Linked DNA regions of Homo sapiens: region 1 is linked to region 2. Evidence: fine-mapped expression QTL. A gene starts in region 2. The other region holds a variant in brackets. All regions are shown on one strand. Distances are between the middles of the regions.

Region 1 (2,907 bases), 410 kb after region 2:
TCCTGGGTAATCTGGATGGGAGGCCTCTTCCCTGCCTACTTCTGCCCCCTGCCCTGCCTGGACAGTGCCAGTCCCACGGCTTATGCTCAGGGCTGCTGTCACTGCACAGCCAGGCTGCCCTGGTGCAACTGGGGAGCGGCCCAGCAGGTTTTTCCTCCCAGTCTGCCTGCCGCGGGGCACCGGGCTGTCCTCTCCCCGCCTCATCAGGGCCCAGCCTTCCCAAGCTCGCCTTCTCTCTGCCGGGCGCAGCCGGCTGGTGGTGGCCACTGAGACAAGATGCCTAGCATCTTCGCCTATCAGAGCTCCGAGGTGGACTGGTGTGAGAGCAACTTCCAGTACTCGGAGCTGGTGGCCGAGTTCTACAACACGGTGAGTGCGTGGGTGTGTGAAGGAGTCTCGCCAGATGCCGGTTCGAATCCCGGTTCCTCCCCATACAGCCTTACTGGGGAATCTTGCTGGAGTGGTTCACCTGTCTCAGCCCTAGTTTTCTCATCTGTTAGCCAAAGAGTGCCAGCTTTCATTCATTTACTTGTCTTTACTTGATGCCAAGCTCTGTGGTAGGTTTTGGAGACACATTGGTGGCCAGGAAAAGAACCGGTCTCTGCCTTCCCTAAGCTAACTCTGATGTGACTGCAGGCATTTGCAACCGGGAGCGATGGTGCCTTCTTGGAGGGCACAGAGGCAGCTGTGGTAGGGGGAGGCAGAGGGTGCCCCTGAGCTAGAGGGGGTGGGCCAATCAGGAAAGGCTTCCTGGAAGAGGTGATTGTGTCTGTCTTGTTTGCAGCTGTACCCACTGACCAACTTGTCCCAGTGTGCCTGGGACTATCCTGGTTTCAGTATTTAAAAAGTTTCACCTCTTGGCTGGGCGCGGTGGCTCACGTCTGTAATCCTAGCACTTTGGAAGGCCAAGGTGGGTGGATTGCCTGAGCTCAGGAGTTGGAGATCGCCCTGGGCAACGTGGTGAAAGCCCATCTCTACTAAAATAAAAAATTAGCTGGGTACGGTGTCAGGCATCTGTAGTCCAAGCTACTCAGGAGGCTACGGCATGAGAATCGCTTGAACCCAGGAGGCGGAGGTTGCAGTGAGCTGAGATTGTGCCACTGCACTCCAGCCTGGGTGAAAAAGCGAGACTGTCTCAAAAAAAGAAGAAAAAAAGTCCCACCTCCTGAGAAACTCCTCAGTTCTGGACATTCTGAGGTGGTCTTCTCTTTCCCTGTTAAAACACCACATGGGAAGTGCTAAAAAATCATGGATGTACCTAGCACCATGGCTCATGCCTGTAACCCCAGCAATTTGGAACGCAGAGGCAGGAAGATCGCTTGAGCCCAGGAGTTCCAGACCAGCCTGGGCAACATAGCAAGACCCTGTCTCTACAAAAAGTTTTTAAAAATTAGCTGGGTGTGGTGGTGTGTGCTTGTAGTTCCAGCTACTTGGGAGGCTGAGGGGGGAGGATTTCTTGAACCCAAGAAGTGGAGGATGCAGTGAGCTGAGGTCATACCACTGCACTCCAGCCTGGGTGACAGAGGGAGACCCTGTCTCAAAAAAAAAAAAAAAAAAAAAAGGCCGGGCGCGGAGGCTCACGCCTGTAATCACAGCACTTTGCGAGGCCAAGGTGAGTGGATCACCTGAGGTCAGGAGTTCGAGACCAGCCTGGCCAACATGGTGAAACCCCATCTCTACTAAAAATACAAAAATTAGCCAGGTTTGGTGGCAGGCACCTGTAATCCCAGCTGCTTGGGAGGCTGAGGCAAGAGAATGGCTTGAACCCAGGAGGCGGAGGTTTCAATGAGCCGAGATCGCACCATTGCACT[C/T]CAGCCTGAGGGACAAGAGCGAGACTTCGTCTCAAAAAAAAAAAAAAAAATAGGAATGCACAAATGATCACGGCATTTAGCCAAAGCTTAAAGCCAAAGATCAGTGCAGCTATGCCATGCCCATACTGGGTGCTGGGAACACAGAGGTGTTTGCCTGGAGCCCTGGGAATGATGGGATCCAGGCATAGTGCTTAGTTCTTTTGTTTGTTTGTTTGTTTGTTTTGAAACGGAGTCTCGCTTTGTCACCTAGGCTGGAATGTAATGGCGCGATCTCGGCTCACTGCAACCTCTGCCTCCCGCGTTCAAGCCATTCTGCTGCCTCAGCTTCCCGAGTAGTTGGGATAACAGGTTCCCACCACCACGCCTGGCTAATTTTTGTATTTTTAGTAGAGACAGGGTTTCACCATGTTGGCCAGGCTGGTCTTGAACTCCCGACCTCAGGTGATCCGCCCACCTCAGCCTCCCAAAGTGCTGGGATTACAGGCGTGAGCCACGGCGCCCGGCCTCGTAGTGCTTAGTTCTATGCCCTGCACATAGGCCTTGCTCAGTGAGCAGAAGAGTGCTTGCTGGCTGGGTGCTATGGCTCACGCCTGTAATCCCAGCACTTTGGGAGGCCGAGGGGGGTGGATCATGAGGTCAAGAGGTCAAGACCATCCTGGCCAACGTGGTGAAATGCCGTCTGTGCTAAAAATACAAAAAATTAGCCAGGCATGGTGCCGGGCGCCTGTAGTCCCAGCTACTCAGGAGGCTAAGGCAGGAGAATCACTTGAACCCGGGAGGCAGAGGTTGCAGTGAGCCAAGATTGTGTCACTGCACTCCAGCCTGGTGACAGAGCGAGACCTCATCTCAAAAAAAAAAAAAAAGTGCTTGCTGTGTACCAGGCATGACCCTAAACATTTTACGTGAAACACCTCCTTTAATCTGCACAGTGACATGGGGAGTTAGATGCAATCTATATGATACAGACTTCATCCCATTTTCCAGGTGATAAAACAGGTGTTCAAGGAGTTTGAAGGCTGTGCCCAGGGTCACCCTGGTTATTAGAGCCAGGATTTAAACTTGGTGAGTCCAGGAGACTTTTCTGGGAGGAGAGTCC
Region 2 (2,907 bases):
CTCTCCCATAAAAGTCTGTTCACACCTTGTAAATCCCTTTGAGGTGCTGGAATGAAAGAGGAGAGGAGGCACTGGGGATTCCCACTCCCATTCTCTCCGGGCTTTGGCGCTTTCTCTGCAGCCTCAGACAAGGCTGGGCGTCTTGCAGGGGGGCCCTTGGGTATACGTTCCCCTTACACAGAGCACCCAGGCTCCCAGAACAGAGAGATACAGCTGAGCCCAGGAGGAGAGCCTTGGGAGCCCACACTGGGACTGATGTCTCTGCTGAGACCTGGCCCCACCTGCTGGTGGCTTCTGAGCTAGAAAATGTCTGATTGCAGTTGGGCAATTGAACCCAGTGAGTTCTGTGGCTAGTCTCAAATGGGGGCTCAGCCTAGCAAAGTTCTGAGTTCACCTCTGCTCAGAGACTCAAACTGGAATTGGGGTTCAGTCCAGGTCAGCACCACCGTGGGGATAGGGGATAGAGGCCAGAGGCTTAACCAGAAGGATTAGCAACCCGGTAAGGGGTCAGGTCCAATCTGGAGTCAGGGCTAGTCCAGATCGGTGGCCTAAACCAGAGATTAAGCCTCAGTGTGTGGTGTGGGGGACGAGGGGGTGTCAGAGTTTCAGGCTGAAGTTAGGACTCAACTTGCAGAGAGGGAGTTCACCTGGGGTCAGAGTTCAGCCCGGAGTCCGGTCTAGCCTGGAATCTGGGGGTGGGGCTCCAATTGCCTCACTCTGGAATAAAAGGCTTAGCCTAAGGCTGGGGTCTCAGCCTGGGGTCATAGGTCATCCTAGGGTCAAACTTTAACCTGAGGCCAGCTTTAGGCCTCTCTGTGGACCAGGAAGATTAGGAAAACAGGTCAGGCCTGAACAGATGCGTGTGTTTACCAAAAGCCTCAGCTCTGGCTGGGAGCCACATCCCTGGCTCAAGAAGAGGAAGTCCGTCCTTGGGGATACTGGGAAAGGTAGTTTATTTAATGCTTTGTGGCCCTTGTCTGCTCCCGCTGCATTCTGGGTAATGTAGTCCCGGACAGTTAAGAGTGGGTGGAGAAATTCCGCTTTAAGGGCCGGATATCAGATCCATGACAATTGGTTAGATAAACTGCTCATTAAATCACATCCGGACAATCTTTATAGCGATTGGTGAGAGTGAGCTGGGGGTTAAGCGTTATCGGCTCTCCCATTCGGAACCGGTGCTGTCCGTCGGTGACGCAAGCAGGCGGGCTTGCGGAGAGGCAATTGCTGATTGGTTGGCGGACTGGAAACTCCGAAAGGCCGGGCCCCGCCGTGCGGCGATTGGCTCATCGGTGGGCGGGCTTGGGCGCCAGAGGCGGAGTCGGGGAGGAGGTGGCTCCAGAGATGGCAGTGAGCGAGAGGAGGGGGCTCGGCCGCGGGAGCCCCGCGGAGTGGGGGCAGCGGCTACTTCTGGTGCTGCTGCTGGGTGGCTGCTCCGGGCGCATCCACCAGCTGGCGCTGACGGTGAGGCCCGCCGCGCGAGGGTCTGGGGTCGGTGGCGCAACTTTGTCTCGGAGAAGCCCCCTGGCTTGGAGTGGTCTCGTCCGCCCTCCCCCGTCCCCGAGGCGGTGGAGTGGTCCGGCGCCCCCCGTTTCCGGGCCCGGAGTGGTCTCGTCCCGGGATCCCCTTCGGTCCTCCGGATGGAGTTGCCGGGTCCGCCTCGCTGGGGTCGGCCCCCTCCCTTCGGGGGCGAGGCTCCATCTCTTGGGGACTACACCCCCCTTCCCCCCAACTGGGTCTTAGTCCTTTAAATTCTTGGAATCACTTTTGGGGCGCTAGAGACCCTGGAGCCGCACAGCGGGGTCCTGGGGGGCTATAGAGTGGGGTCCTCTGGGCACTTAATGGGATTTGGGGGGTTCTGTTGAAATATTGCTGGGAGCTCAACTGGAATGTAAAAGTTCTTCGGGAAGGTGAAGGTCAGGCACGCCGAGGTGAATAACTGTTCTCCGGGCGGTGCTCACCCCAGTGGGGAGACTTCCAGGTGCCGCAGGATCTCTGTTCCTGGGTTCTCAGAACAGAGGTCGGAGAATGCAGGACCACCCTTCCCCTGCAGGGAGGAAGTCCCTCTCAACTTTCTCTTGTCATCCTCTGGGCCTGTCCTAAATAGAGGGGTACCAGGAGGCCCTTCTGGAGGTCCTCGTGCCAGACCCCTGGGGCTGGGCAGGCGGAAAGAGGTCTGAACTGCCTCTGCCTCCTTGGTCTCCGGCAGGGGGAGAAGCGAGCGGACATCCAGCTGAACAGCTTCGGTTTCTACACCAATGGCTCTCTGGAGGTGGAGTTGAGCGTCCTGCGGCTGGGCCTCCGGGAGGCAGAAGAGAAGTCCCTGCTGGTGAGGGACCTTGAGGAGTTTGCTGGAGGAGAGCACGGTGCAATCCCCCGGTTCTGGGTTCCCAGCTCTGCCGCTACCCATGTGATCTTGTACAAGTCCCGTCATCTCTCTGAGCCTGTTTCGTCATCTGTACCTGGGAGTAATGATGTCTTACACAGGATGTGCTAGGCACTTTTCTTAAGACTTGGGGGACAGGCGGGGCGCGGTGGCTCAGGCTTTGTAGTCCTAGCACTTTGGGAGGCCAAGGTGGGAGGATTGCCTGAGGCCAGGAGTTCAAGACCAGCCTGGGCAACATAGTGAGAACCCCGTCTCTACAAAAAGTTTTTAAAATTAGCCGGGCGTGGTGAGGTGTGCCTGTAGTCCCAGCCAGTCGGGAGGCCGAGGTGAGAGGATCGTTTGAACCTGGGAGTTCGAGGCTGTAGTGAGCTATGATCCTGCCACTGTATTCCAGCTTGAGAAACAGAATGAGGTCCACCCACCACCCCAACTCTAAAAAAGAAAAAGAGCGTGTGGGATCTAGCACATGTTAGGTGTTCAGTAAATGTGAGGTTAGGTTTCTATTGCTACTGAAAGGGATAGCT

The links. PIP is the estimated chance that this variant, and not a neighbour inherited with it, causes the effect.
Region 1: its variant is fine-mapped to the expression of GPR108 in adrenal gland (GTEx, PIP above 0.99).

Annotation. Positions count from the first base shown.
Region 1 is chr19:6,330,921-6,333,827 of GRCh38, reverse strand. It overlaps ACER1 (alkaline ceramidase 1), which reads left to right and starts at 216. Exons shown (of 6, transcript NM_133492.3): 1 at 216-369. The coding sequence starts at 277. The variant C/T (reference allele first, on the strand shown) is at 1,812.
Region 2 is chr19:6,736,011-6,738,917 of GRCh38, reverse strand. GPR108 (G protein-coupled receptor 108) reads left to right here and starts at 1,338. Exons shown (of 18, transcript NM_001080452.2): 1 at 1,338-1,461; 2 at 2,207-2,326. The coding sequence starts at 1,342. It overlaps MIR6791 (microRNA 6791), which reads left to right and starts at 2,140; the gene lies at 2,140-2,206. RefSeq lists enhancers at 1-681, 814-873, 2,314-2,463 and silencers at 1,364-1,423, 1,524-1,693, 1,842-2,003, 2,369-2,523.